Linked DNA regions of Homo sapiens. The protein of the gene in region 2 purifies or fractionates together with the protein of the main gene of each other region. This does not show direct contact. Each region holds a gene or a part of one and is shown on either strand. Other genes may lie near its edges.

Region 1 (7,022 bases), 440 kb from region 2:
GCTGTGGCCAAGAGGGCAGCGGGGGCAGCTGGACTGGGGTTTTTGCCGACGCTCTAATTTGGCGGCTGTCGCCACCCCTCCCCCCCATGGAGACCCTGACGTGGCCTGAGCCAGACTCCAGGGGCCATGTGCCCTGCTGGGGAGCAGGGGCTCAGCATCAGGTCTGGTGCACTGACTGGGAGAGGGGGGTCTCCAGCCCTGGACAGGCTCTGAGTGGGGTGGGGTCCCCCAGCTGCTGTGCCCAGCCCTGCCCCCAGGACCTGGCCTTGGCCCTGCGCTGGCCGGGGCCAGGGAGGGAGTGGGCCCAGCTCCCAAGTCTGTGTGACCACCTCGGCTGGGGCACTGACAGCCCGGGGTGCGGAGGGCCCAGCCCGTGACACCCGCCGTCAGCCGCGCCCTCTGCCTCCAGCCCGTGGACCGGGAGCCCGTGGACCGGGAGCCGGTGGTGTGCCACCCCGACCTGGAGGAGCGGCTGCAGGCCTGGCCAGCGGAGCTGCCTGATGAGTTCTTTGAGCTGACGGTGGACGACGTGAGAAGACGCTTGGCCCAGCTCAAGAGTGAGCGGTGGGTGCCCCCTCAGTGCCTCCCGGCATCTTCGCGCCAGGGTTTGCCCCATCGGGTGCTTGTGCTGCCCGCTGTCCCCAGTGCCAGCACTGGCTCCCGGCCCAGGTCCCTGACAGGCTGCCCTTAACAGGACCTCAGAGGGTTGGGGCCCAGGGAGGGGCGTCCAGACCTTCCTGCCTTGTGTGGGGAGAGCAGCCCACTCCCACCCTGGAGGGTGCAGGTGAGGAGCCCGGGGCCTGTTGCCAGGGCCCCCATTCTGACCAGAAGCCCTGTTCCTTCCCCTCCTCACCACAGGAAGCGCCTGGAAGAAGCCCCCTTGGTGACCAAGGCCTTCAGGGAGGCGCAGATAAAGGAGAAGCTGGAGCGCTACCCAAAGGTCTGCAGACAGGATGTGGGGGCGACTGAGGCACAGCTCTGAGGGGGCCCCCCGTGAGGTCTGTGGACGGGATGGGGCGACTGAGGCACAGCTCTGAGCGGGCCCCCTGTGAGGTCTGTGGACAGGACGTGGTGGCGACTGAGGCACAGCTCTGAGCGGGCCCCCTGTGAGGTCTGTGGATGGGACGTGGGGGCGACTGAGGTACAGCTCTGAGGGGGCCCCCTGTGAGGTCTGTGGATGGGACGTGGGGGCGACTGAGGCACAGCTCTGAGCAGGGCCCCCCCGTGGTGGCGCGCATGCCCTTAGTGGCCAGTTGATCCTCCCCTGCTCATGATTTAGAATGAAACCTTTTTTTTTTTTTGAGACGGAGTCTCTCTCTGTCGCCCAGGCTGGAGTCAGTGGTGCCATCTCAGCTCACTGCAAGCTCCGCCTCCCGGGTTCAAGTGGTTCTCCTGCCTCAGCCTCCCAAGTAGCTGGGATTTCAGGTACCCGCTACCACTAGCTCGGCTAATTTTTGTTGTTTTTTTTTTTTTTACTAGAGATGGAGTTTTACCATGTTGGCCCGGCTGGTCTCGAACTCCTGACCTCAGGTGATCTGCCCGCCTCGGCCTCCCAAAGTTCTGGGATTACAGGCTTGAGCCACCACACCTGGCTGAATGAAACTTTAAACAGCACATTTGAGCCGGGCGTGGTGGCTCACGCCTGTAATCCCAGCACTTTGGGAGGCCAAGGTGGGCGGATCATGAGGTCAGGAGATCGAGACCATCCTGGCTGACACGGTGAAACCCCATCTCTACTAAAAATACAAAAAATTAGTCAGGAGAGGTGGCGCACGCCTGTAGTCCCAGCTGCTCGGGAGGCTGAGGCAGGAGAAAGGCGTGAACCCGGGAGGTGGAGCTTACAGTGAGCCGAGATCATGCCACTGCACTCCAGCCTGGGCGACAGAGTGAGACTCCATCTCAAAAAAAAAAAAAAAAAAAAAAAACCAGCACATTTGAACCCAGGTCAGTGTGGTTTTAGAACGCAGGCCGCTGTGCACACACACGGCACTTGGCTGTCTCCATGCCCAGCCTGCCACGGGGGAGTCAAAGCCCAGGCCCTGATTGGGGGTGGCTGCTTCTGCCTGCCTCAGCCCTGGTGTCCATGGCCCAGCATGGGCCGAGTGGGGAGGCCACGCCCTGGTCCCTGGTGCAGCTCCGGCCGTCCCTCCAACCCTTCCACTTGTCTGGCCTAGGTGGCTCTGAGGGTCCTGTTCCCCGACCGCTACGTCCTACAGGGCTTCTTCCGCCCCAGCGAGACAGGTGGGCAGCGCTGTGGGGTGTCCGGGGATGGGGGGCAGGGGCCCATGGGGCCTCTCCCGGCTCCTTCCTTCCAGGCCACAGGACTGCAGCCACCTGGCCTGCGGGCTCCAGGGCACTGGGTGGGTGCGGGTGCTGATGTCCCCTTGGGGGTGCAGAGGCATCCCAGTTCGCAGAGTGTCAGGCAGGCTGGGCGCTTGCTCCAGGTGCCCGGCCCCAGCTCAGGGAGCCCGTGGTCCTGAGTGCTCACGTCGCCCACCTACTGGGCATGGGTGGGGCAGAGGGGCACCCAGAGGAAGGCACCCTACCCCGGGAGGAGGGCAGTGGTGCTGTGACATTCAGGGGCTTGTGACCTGTACCCAGACGGCCGGGCGGCAGCAGCCCAAGGTCACAGGGGCCTCCCCCAGGGAAAGGGAAGCGCTTAGGCTGGGGCGGGGGTGGGGCTGGGGGGCAGCGGGTGGCAGTGGGAGTGCTCTCCAGCAGGGCGGGGGTCCCAAGTGTGGCCCGCACGGTGGCCCAGCCACGCCGAGCACCTGGAGTGCTGTGGGAGGAACAGGGCTGAATTCCCACCCCTCGGGGAAAGGCCCAGGAGGGTGGGAGCAGTGGCCCAGGTGCTGGGGCAGCCCGGGGCTGGCGTGGTGGAAGAGCTGTCTGTATGTTCTTTTTCTCCTCTGCAGTGGGGGACTTGCGAGACTTCGTGAGGAGCCACCTGGGGAACCCCGAGCTGTCATTTTACCTGTGTACGTTTTTTCTCCTGAGCCCACTCCTGCCTCCAGTGCTCGGGGCCTTGGTGCTGTGGGCACACCGCCCGTCCCAGCTGGGGCTCGTGGCAGCTTCTCCACAGGAGCAGCATCTGTGGCCTCCCGCCCAGGTGCCTCCTGCAGCCCATGGTGTCTGTGTGGAGACCTAGGAGGGCCCTTCTCCCCGAGCCAGGCGGTGGGAGCCAGGCTTCCTGCCTTCTCTCTCAGCGCCCTGCTCCCCTCTGGAGCCCTGCTGCACCCCAGCCTGGTCCCCACCCCTGGGGCTCAGGCCACTCCTGCCCGAGGGCTGTGGGAAGGGTGGGTGGACAGGGAGTGGCTGGCCTCCCTTGGAGGGTGTCTAGGTGGCAAAGGGTTAGGCTGCCCACTGCAAGGGGAGCCGGGCTGCACGGGTGGTGTCCCCTGCAGGTGGGCCTGCCCCCCACCGGCCCTTCCGAGCCCTCAGCTGGAGTTTCTGCAGCAGGAGTGTGGGCACAGGGCGTGCTCGTGAGGGGCTCTTCTGCCCCACTTGAGGCGTCACCCCCATCTGCAGGCCTGTCTTCCTTCGGGCGCATGGATGGGCGAGGTCCACGGTGCTTCCTAACACGTAGGTGCCTTCTCTCCTCAGTCATCACCCCTCCAAAAACAGTCCTGGACGACCACACGCAGACCCTCTTTCAGGTACCTGAGGGCCTCCCTGGGGTGCTGCGGGGCGGGGCCCTCCAGGGAGGGCAGGACGAGAGCGTGAGGCCTCGGGCAGGAAGGAGGGGCCTGGCAGGCGCTGGGGCAGGATAATAAAGCCTTTGAGAGCCGGTGGGTTCCGAGGGGGCCGTGCGCCTCTGAAGTTGCTTCTGACACGGCTTTCCGGCCTCCTCTGCTTCCTGCCTGGCCCCGGGTGGGAAAGGACCTGCTAGGCGGCCTGCCTGAACTGAGGCCGCTTGGAGGTCTCGGCCCCCCTGGGCTGCTGTGCTGGGGCCAAGGCGGCAGCAGTCCCTGCCCAGGGGTCTGGGTGAGGAAGGGCCCGGCAGGCCTCGGAGCAGGGCTCAGGGAGCCCCAGAGGGACCAGGCCCTCAGCTGGAGGCGGCCGCCTTGGGCTTCAGCTGCCCCTTCCCCCTGCCCGGCCTCTCCCGCTGGCCCCCCGGTCCCTGCTAGGAACGCCCTGGTGCCCATAGCTGTCCGCTGCTTCTGTGGGTCCCTGCCACCTCCCTGAGGGCTCCTGAGGGTGGGGCCAGGGTGAGGGTGCCGGGTTCCCAGCCCTGCTGGGCCGCCCTCCAGAGCCAGAAGCAATGAATGTCCTGTCCTTGGCCTGTGGGAGAGCTGCCTGGGGCCTTCCGAAGCCCTCTGGCCTAATGGTTTCCTCTTCAAAGCCTCTTCAGATATTTTAATTAGCCACAGAGGCGGGTTTTTTTTTAAGTGGCCACAGGCCTCTACAGAGGCCTGGGTTGGAGGTGAGAAGCTTGCTCACTGCCTGGGGCTGCAGCCGCTTACTGAGCTGGGGCAAGAAGGCTGGCAGCTGCCAGGGGTGATCAGGAGCAGGACTGAGCGGGATTCCCTGCAGCGGAGGCAGGGGAGGGGTGAGACAGTCCCCTCTCAGCCCCCGAGCTGCCGGGCGGACTCCGGGCCTCCTTCCTCCGTCTCCATCCCCTCCCTTGCTGGCCAGCCAGTTGATAAACATTGAATTTGGAAGATGCCTTGGGATGGAGGAGGACCAGTGCCCAGGCCTGCAGCCCACCCTCCCGCTGGGAGGCCCCTGAGAGCACTGGGGTGCTGCTGCCCTGTTTCTGGGGACGCTTGGCTTCCCTACCAGCCACCGTCTCCTGCCCTCCATCAGCTCGGCTCTAGCCTCGGGGCCTCTCGGGGTGGTGTCCCCGGTGACGTGCCTGCCTGCCTGCCTGCCGTCAGAGAGCTGGCGGGGCTGAGGGAAGGAAGCCTGCCTCCCTGGCAGGCAAGCAGGCGGCGGGCGCGGAAGCACCAGCTTTCACGTCTCTGGCAGAGCCCCACTCCGGCTGCCTGCTGCCTGGGGGATGTCCAGGGGCCGGCCCCCGGCTTCCGAGAGGGACAGCGTGCGTGGGTGTGGGGGCTCCGGTAGCCCGGCAGCCCTCTGTGGCCCTGGCCCAGGAGAGTGCAGGTTTTCTGGGAGGGCTGGGAGGAGGCGGCCAGGAGTGAGGACAGGGAATTGTGAGCAGTGTGGGGGCACCACTGTGGGGAACAAAGCCCCCCGCCCCTGCCTGAAACCTGCGTCCTGGCCCTGGGCATCAGGGCTGGCCCTGCCCTGGTGTCCTCACACAGTCACTTCTGTGTGCGGTCCGCGTCCTCAGGTCATGAGGAAGGTCACCCTGGGCTAGGCCCACCTTTGATGTCACGGTCACCTCACTTATCTCTTCAAAGGCTCTGCTGTTTGGGCTTCCTTCCATTGGCTTTGGCAGGGCAAGCCTGGCTCCTAACACCCTCCGTTTGTTGGAGCTCTCAGGCTGCCTCTGGGGACCGTCTGCCAGGACACAGGCCACCCTTGCTGCCTGGTTCCCCACTCCCCAAGCCACTCACCTGGCAGGGCGTGACTGGCACTTCTGGCCTGAGTGCCTGCTGGGCGCCCGCCCCTAGCCAGTTCTGTCGTCCTTCCTTTCCACCCAGGACAGCCCCGTCCTGCACTGCCGTGTCGCCCACTGCCGGGGCCTCTCTGGGACCAACAGGCCCCCTTCCTTCCACCCACCAGGCCCTACCCCACCTGGACCCTCTGAAATGTTCCTCGTTGACAAATGGTCTTGCAGAAGGCAGGATGGCTCCTGCAGCCCCCACTCCCGCTCTGTGGGTGGATGCCCCGTCTCTCCCTGCCCAGGCACCGTGGTGCCTTCTCTCTCCCGGGCACCGTGGTGCCACCTCCCTCCCAGACACCATGATGCTGCCTCCCTCCCGGGCTCTGTGGTGCCATCTCCCTGCCGAGGCACTGTGGTGCCGCCTTCCTCCCGGGCACGGTGGTGCCGCCTCCCTCCCAGGCGCTGTGGTGCCGCCTCCCTCCCGGGCGTCTTGAGCTGCAAGGGCTCCTCTCTTGGCTTCGTTCCCCGGAGGGTGGTGCTGTTCTCGTTGGAGGGGGCGGCCAGGCGCTGGGCCACGTGTGCATGCAGCCCCTACAGAGTTGCTGCCCCGTGGGGGTTGACGTGGGCCTCCTTTCGGAAGCTCTTCCTGGCAACACTGAGTGGGGCAAGGGGTTGGCAGCAGAGAGGCGGCTGGATTTGGGGCCCCAGTGTCCTGGGCGGCAGCTAGGGAGGGGCCGGCTCCAGGCCCTCAGGCTGTGTCAGGGCAGGGCGGGCACCCCCACTTCTCCCTGTCAGCCGAGGGAGCCAGGCAGGGGCAGCCTGAGACATCCTGGGACAGTGCTGGTGGGGAGAGGCCCCTCAGCCTGTGCCTCCCTCAAAGGCCCTTCCCGGGCCCTGCTCTGGCTGGGGGGACGGTGTGACCCACTTTCCCTTTCCAGCCCCAGCTTGGTGACCGGGTGGCTCCATTCACCCTGGGTCCCTCGCTGAAACGGTGCCTGGGACCAGAGCAGAGAACACGCTTGCCAGTGGTAGGAGATGGAGGCGACGTGGACTCTGGGAGGCTTCTTTTTTGGGGTCCATCCAGAGGCCGAGCCTCTCCAAGCACTGGTCAGCCTCCATGCCACCCAGTCTGCCGACCCTCCTCTCCACCATCCCCTCGTCCGAGCAGTGGCGATCCCTCCCGAGTCAAGGCTGGGCACAAGCACGTGGGGACAGGCCGGGTAGGCTGCCTGGCTCAGTGCTCCCTGCACAGAGGCGCAGACAGGGAGCCCAGGTGCCCCAGGCCTGGCTGCCAAGCCTACTTCCCTCTCCTGGTGTTCCCGAGTCCTGCCCGCCCCTTTCTGTGCGTCCCGTGGGGCAGTGCTGGTTGGGGGTCCTGGCCTGTGGGGGCTATGATGAGAACCAGGTGCCTCTCTGCATCGGTGGCCTCTGAGGGAGCCCTCTCGCCCGGCAGCAGGTGGGATGCAGATGGGGCTGGCCAGGGCTCCTGTGCCCACAGCAGCCTCTGGGCAGT
Region 2 (7,022 bases):
CACACACACACACACACACAAAGAGCAGGGCGGGCTGAAAAACTATTAGGTACTATGTGTAGTACCTGGGTGATGTGATCAATCATACCCCAACCTCAGCATCAGGCAATATACCCAGGTGACAAACCTGCACATGTACCCTGTGAATCTAAAATAAGTTAAAATTATTTTTAAAAAACAAACAAATAAAAAGCAACAACAAAGCCCCAAGAATTAGCTGGGTGTGGTGTTGCAAGCCTGTGGTCCCAGTTACTCAGCAGGCTGAAGCAGAAAGATCACTTGAGCCTGGAGTTTGAGGCTGCAGTGAGTTACGATTGTGCAACTGCACTCCAGCCTCGGCAATAGAGTGAGACCCTGTCTCTACAAAAATAAAAATAATAAACAAAGAATTGTGTGAAAAGAAAACCTCGGCTGGGCGTGGTGGCTCACACCTGTAATCCCAACACTCTGGGAGGCAGAGGCAAGCAGATCACAAGGTCAGGAGTTCGAGACCAGCCTGGCTAACATGGTGAAACCCTGGCTCTACTAAGAATACAAAAATTATCCAGGCATGGTGGCACATGCCTGTAGTCCCAGCTACTCAGGAGGCTGAGGCAGGAGAATCGTTTGAACCCAGGAGGTGGAGGTTGCAGTGAGGCAAGATCACGCCACCACACTCCAGCCTGGGTGACAAGAGCCAAACTCCGTCTCAAAAAAAAAAAAAAAAACAGGAAATGGTATAAAGGTGTTTGATGTGTCTTTTGAAGGCTGTGTTAACAGAAGGATTCTAGCATTTGTCCAGGGCCGTAGCTCCCGGGCACTCTGGTGCTCTCAGCTGCAGGGACTCAGGGCACTCGGGCTGCACGAGGCACCACGGTGCGTGAGGAGTCCCTGCAGCAATGCTGACAGAAGGTTCTCACGAGTGGGGAATCGTTCAGGACCTGGTGACTGAGGGTCCGGAAGACACGCAATGCCTGCGGTCCGTTCCGTAGTGTCCACCAGCAACAACATGGATGCTGCAGGCTTCTCCTCCTTACAGCTTTAAGCACTAAAGGGAAATTCTCAAGGAGACCAAAAGGTCCCACGCTTCCGGCGCTTCCATAAAGTTTCTGATTCTCTTAAGACAATGATGTTCAAAGTGCTCCTAGGATGCCTGGAGATTAGTATCTCTGATGTACAGGTTTATAAAATTTACAGGGCTGTGTACCTAAGACGTACGGCCTGGACAACATGTCTGCTCCATCACCGGAGCCTGCCACGTGCCTGGCAGGGAGGCCGAGTCTCTACTCGTTGCATTGCCGATGGCACCTGCCAGGATGCAGCTGGGTGCGGAATCCAGGGCACCACCGGCAGTGGGGAGCTGTGCAGAGTGGGCTGCTCTCCGGCCCCAGCCACGGGGTGCCGGGGCAGGGGGTGGGGGTACTCACTGCACAGCTGCTCGATGGTGGCCCACTGCTCAGACCTCTTCCATGTCTGGGCGAGCTCCTCATTTCTGGTCCGCACGGCCTCCAGCAGCAAGCTGATGCTGTCCTACAAGAAGCCAAAAGGAAGGTTCCTCTTCGCTGTGCCTAAGGTGAGCAGCTTCCTGCTAGAACAGGTTTCTTTCTCCCCAACATCAAGACGTATTTCTGAGGACATTTTAAAAATCTTACAGGCTATCACTATAAAATGCAAACTGCCACAACTTACATCTATAAACGCAAGTGCTAAATTGAACTAGAATTTAAATTCTTCCCAAATAGGCCCAAGCGGGCATCTGTGCCTCTGCCTTGTGCTGACGGTGCTCAACAGCCCGGAGGATAGGAGCTCATGCCTCTCGTCCTGGAGGCTGGGATGGAGGGCGGAAGTCTTGACTGTGAGACGTGTCCTCCTCCCTCACATTTCATCCCTCTGCCTCTTTCTCCTCTCGTGTCTGGAAAAATGCACTCTCTATCCTAGCCTTCCGAGTCAAACTGCAGGGGATTAATGCATTAAGGATGGGCGCAGTGGCTCACGCCTGTAATCCCAACACTTTCAGAGGCAGAGGCAGACAGATCACGAGGTCAGGAGTTTGAGACCAGCCTGGCAAACGTGGCGAAACCCCGTCTCTACTAAAAATACAACAATTAGACAGGCGTGGTTGCGGGCACCTGTAATCCCAGCTACTCGGGAGGCTGAGGCGGGAGAATCGCTTGAACCCAGAAGGCGGAGGTTGCAGTAAGCCAAGATTGCGCCAATGCACTCCGGTCTGGGCAACAGAGCGAGACTCCGTCTTAAAAAAAAATAATTCATATATGAGAAACGGATAAAGCCTTCAGGAGCTCTCAGTACCTCCAGAGAATGTCTTCCAACAGATGACTGCAAAAATAGTGCAGTATACTAGCAAGGTGGCTCTGGTGTAGAGGGAGCCTCACCTTTCACCACCTGTCCAGACAGATGGGCAGCAGCTGAACCTCGGAGCAGGAGGTGCAGTTCCCTGGGCTGACTAGGGAAGGCACAGGCAGGGAAGAGGCACAGGGTGCCTGATGTCAAATACCCGAGTGAGTGGTTTTGAGACAAAATACAGACACAAAATAAACTAGCAGGATACAAGAACAGCTATAGGCTTCCTGACAGAGAAAGGCCGGGGGAGGAGGAGCCTCTCTATTCTGTCTCCTTCAGGGAAAAGTTCTGAGTCAGTGGCGGAGCAGCTCAGAAAGAATTTGCTCCTTTCTCTTTGGCATTTCCTGTTGGCTTGAACAGTGAAGAAAAAGCCAAAGTCGGACCCCTACACACGGCAAGAACCTCCTGGGGGCTGCTGCCCACTGGCCCCCACTACCCAGAGCAGCCACTTCTGCAAAGCACTCGCCCTCTTCTCCCCCAACGGTGTCTCTTAAAAATGCCAACTGTGCAGCTGTGAGCTTGGGGTCTGGAAGCTGGCCAAGCCTTCTGGGCCAAGGCAATAAAACCAGAGTTGATTTAGGAGGAGGGGAGATATGAGTAAAAAGCAGAGGCTGTGACTCTGAAACTGTTAGAACAGGAATTTTTTAAACTGTCTAACTCTAATGCTGGAGGCAGAGCTAAATCACCTCTGCTTCCCATTCGATTGTAACAGATGAAACCGTACTTCCTCACAGAGGTGCAGACACTCAATGGAAATGCTAAAGGTGAAAAAATTAATCTTTCTATCAACAAGCTTCTTGTGAAAAGCTGCTGCCTACACTCTGCCCATAGGACAAATGAGGGGGACAACCTGTGACCCCGAGCTTTGACCCAGTTTCCCAATCATGCTCTGGTCTGGGAGGAAAGAAAGCAAGACACAGGCGTCTCTTTGCAGCCAAAGCCCACTTGCTCAAGTGGACACCACACTTGGACACGCACCTGCAGAGGCATAACTTCATTGGTGACCAGGAACAGCAAGAGGTGGAAATCTGAGATGGTATCCAAGAACACAGATGAGGTATTCTGAGACAAATAGGTGGCCAAGCTATGGAAGTCCTAGAGGAATGGGAATAAACATGAATGTTCCATACAGTTCCCCAGTGCCAGACCCCGAAACAGAGCTGTTTCCTACTAAGACGCAACTCAATACACTGAATGCTGAGACACCTCTCCCTCTGCCTCTGCAACCACGAACAGGGTCCAAGAAAGAGGAGCAGGCAGCTGCAAAGCAAGCTCTTGCTCTCTTCTCCCAAGAAGATGCTCTCAGCACACCTGACTACCCAGATGTGCAAGGAGACATGCTTATAAAGCTGACTCAGACTGGCCAGGTGTGGAGGCTAACACAGTAATTCCAGCACTTTTTAGGAGGCCGAGGCAGGCAGGTGGTCAGGAGTTCGAGACCAGTCTGGCCAACATGGCGAAACCCCGTCTCTACTAAAAATACAAAAAAAATTACCCAGGCTTGGTGGCGCGCACCTATAATCCCAGCTACTCAGGAGGCTGAAGCAGAAGAATCGCTTGAACCCAGGAGGTGGAGGTTGTAGTGAGCCAAGATCGCACCACTGCACTCCAGCCTGGGTGATAGAGTGAGACTCTGTCTTCCAAAAAAAAAAAAAAAAAAAAAAAAAGGCTGACTCAGACAGAGACACAAACATGGAAATGCGCCCTGGTCCCCCGGTGGAGAGTGGGCTGCGGGAGGGGCCTGGGGCCCCCTTCACGGCAGGGAGACAGGTCTGACTTTTCCTGTCGAGCTGTATTCTCCATCTAGGGCAGCAAGAGGGAGGAATGTGCAGGGCAGCCGTGATGCAGCACGGACATCTTCAGCAGAACCAAACACAGAGCTTCAAGAGTGCACCCCAATAACTGGCTTTGCACCTCTGTGAGCACCCCAAGTCCCCTGGGCGGATGGGCACTGAGGGGATCAAAGCATAGAAGAAGCTTTGTCAGCCACTGAAGAAAACCTCATTATAGACATTCTTTGACCACCTTCTGAAATGTCTGTTAGCAAGTTATGATTTAAGAACAACCATGTGTACACAGCCTGTCTACACAGTATGCAGGCGTGACAGCAAATCGGACCTGGCCTGATCTGCCAGTGAGAGCAGAGGCCAACACGGGAGCCACGCTAAGCAGCAGATCAACACTACACACGGGAAAGCCGAGGCCAGGCCGAGAGGGGCCACACAGCCCCAAGGTGCCTAAGAAGGGCAGCAGGTGACCAGGCAGGGGCCAGGCCAAACCAACAGTGACGAGGCTGCTGGCAGAAGACACAAAGCAACACATTTGGGAAAATTACGAGGTCCACTGAAGATGTGGCCAGTCAGGACGTCAGGGGATTAGCCTTTGTGGCCGTCCATCACCTAGCCATGGGAAGGGCGTCCACGTGACCAGCAGTGCCCCACAGTAGGCCCTAGCTGGCCTGTCACAAGAATGAATCGGGAGCATTTGAAAGCTTGATGTTTTCTGGAAAAACAATACTGACACTAGATAACAATCAGCAGTTACCTTAAATTATGTTTCTAAAGACAAAGAGCTCACCTGTGTCTCACCCAATACATCCCGGTTTTCAATAGGAAATGGATTTTGCGAAATAGAAAAAGTGTAAACTGGATCCTTGGGGAAAGTTGTTGTGATCTAATGAAGAAAAACACAAACCCATGATAAATGAGGCTGAAAATGGTGTGGCCGACTCCCAGCCAGCCCAGAGCATCTCCCAGAGCCCAAATTAACGACTCCTAGCAATTCTGAGAATGTTCTACAAGCTCTCCATCAAAGGGAACCGTTATCTATTAGTGTCATCTCTAAACGAACACTTGGAAACTCCGCCATCCTGGAGACAAACTACACCATATCCGGGCAGCCTCCGGCCTGTGCACCGGCCTCGACGTCGGACAAAAAGGGCACTGGGACTCCCCTCGTGGCACAGCTTCCCTTCAGAGTCACACAGGTTCTCTCCCTCTGCTATGGAGGAACGAAAGGCTGGTTTGGCCCCTTGGCCAGGTGACAGGAAAGGAACGGAAGGGCCAGGAGGCCGCCCCAGGAGCTGACTTTGCTCAAGAGAGATTCGTGTCATTGGATTCGGAGGGCAAATGAGCAATCAGCCAGCTTTCAAGACACAAAGCACCCTTCAGCAGCTCACTAAGCCCCTTCTGAATGCTGGGAGCCACTCCACGGAGCTGTGGGCTTTTCCAGGCAGGGGTGAATGTAAGGCCCTTGAGGAACACAGGGTTCAGCTCTTCTCTCTCCCTCAGAGCTGATACCCAAAGGCCAGCTAAGTCCTTCAGTCCTTCACTGGCTCAGACAGGCCTTAATGACAACAGAGGGCACTTTGCACCTAAGATATAATCAATAGATGCTACAGGGACAGTGGTAAATGTGCAAGAATCAATAGAAATACCACTTTTATTCTTCGTGACAGACACCCCTCCCCAAAGCAGCACCGAGTTGAGTTGATGCTGCTTTTCTCTGCAACACAACAGCAGCAGCAGAGGTCACACCTCTTCCAGATTTAGGGGAACTATTCTGGTTCCTTTGGGACTATTTCTAAAGAATGAGTGTGGTTCTGGTCTGTTTTCTGCATCAGCAAAGGCAGTGAGTTGTTGAGCTAGCTGGCCCAGGATTTGCTGTGCCAGCGCCAGCCGCTGTGGAAGGACAGCTGAGCCACCAGCAGCATCTCTGGCCTGAGCTGGCCCTTCATGGGCAAGCGGCGGGGTGGGTCATGAAGACTCGGGCCGCGGTGCCACGTGTCGGCTACATGGCCTCGTCAGTTAGGGATCCTGGGCCTCACTTTACTCTTCCTCAGGATGAAGATGATCGGAGTACTCGCCTCCTGGGTGCCCAGCACGGGGCTGGTACACATAGTGTTGGTACACACAGTGCTGGGTCCCAGCTGAAGACAGGGGAGGTGCTGACCTCCTGCAGAGACAAAAGCCTGGCCTGCTCAGGCGCGTCCCTTGGGAAGGCCTAGAAATGAAGAAGGCGGCACCCCCAGAACACGTGCTAGTGAGTGAGCTAGTGGGACTGACGGGGGCTCTTGCTGGCCTTGTAACTGGCCCTTGGAGGGGAACAGAACCAAAGTCCACACAGCCCATCCCAGATGTCCCAAGGAAGGGCATCAGCTCCCATCTTACACTGAAGCCATTTCCCTACCCTACCCATCGTCTATCAGCCAGATGATGCCCCCAGAACCCACAAAGAAACCCCAGTAACACTGGCTGGTGCCTTTTCCTGCCTGCCCAGCCATCCCATCCCAAGGTTTAAGAACCTTGGCTGAGGCCAGCGCCTGTGGCCCAGGGCTGGGCATGGAGCTTGACACACCTCTCTGGGCACCTGCTCTCAAGGACTCCCCATGCCTCACTTCCACAGGGTCAAGGAGCCTGGGCATCACAGAGCAGAATGCTCTCCCACAAACAAGTACTTCTGAAAAACTGCACTAAGGCAAAAACTTAACTTCCTTTATAAAAGAAGAGGAAAGAAGTGGGGAGGCTGCTTGGGGTAGAAGACCTGAGAAAGCTGGTTTTAAATCATGCCTGCTCCTCCTGGGTGCATGCTCCATCAATCTGTTTTCATCTTAATTACACCCTAGGTAGTCTAAAAACCAGATGCCTTCACGGCCTAGGTAATAAATATGTTCTCGGGAGCTG

The links.
Region 1: the proteins of NPLOC4 (region 2) and ASPSCR1 purify together in Homo sapiens (affinity purification with mass spectrometry; 3 studies listed by BioGRID and IntAct, with this or other methods). This does not show direct contact.

The regions. Positions count from the first base shown.
Region 1 is NC_000017.11:82,008,628-82,015,649, forward strand, and holds part of ASPSCR1 (tether containing UBX domain for GLUT4), read left to right. Parts: intron 1-409; coding exon 410-564; intron 565-858; coding exon 859-940; intron 941-2,174; coding exon 2,175-2,241; intron 2,242-2,915; coding exon 2,916-2,978; intron 2,979-3,528; coding exon of another isoform or gene 3,529-3,603; coding exon 3,604-3,656; intron 3,657-6,447; coding exon of another isoform or gene 6,448-6,729; intron 6,730-7,022. UniProt on the Homo sapiens protein: Tethering protein that sequesters GLUT4-containing vesicles in the cytoplasm in the absence of insulin. Modulates the amount of GLUT4 that is available at the cell surface. Enhances VCP methylation catalyzed by VCPKMT.
Region 2 is NC_000017.11:81,564,099-81,571,120, forward strand, and holds part of NPLOC4 (nuclear protein localization protein 4 homolog), read right to left. Parts: intron 5,014-7,022; coding exon 4,918-5,013; intron 3,436-4,917; coding exon 3,319-3,435; intron 2,505-3,318; exon of another isoform or gene 2,373-2,504; intron 1,510-2,372; coding exon 1,407-1,509; coding exon of another isoform or gene 1,222-1,406; exon of another isoform or gene 149-1,221; coding exon of another isoform or gene 102-148; exon of another isoform or gene 1-101. UniProt on the Homo sapiens protein: The ternary complex containing UFD1, VCP and NPLOC4 binds ubiquitinated proteins and is necessary for the export of misfolded proteins from the ER to the cytoplasm, where they are degraded by the proteasome.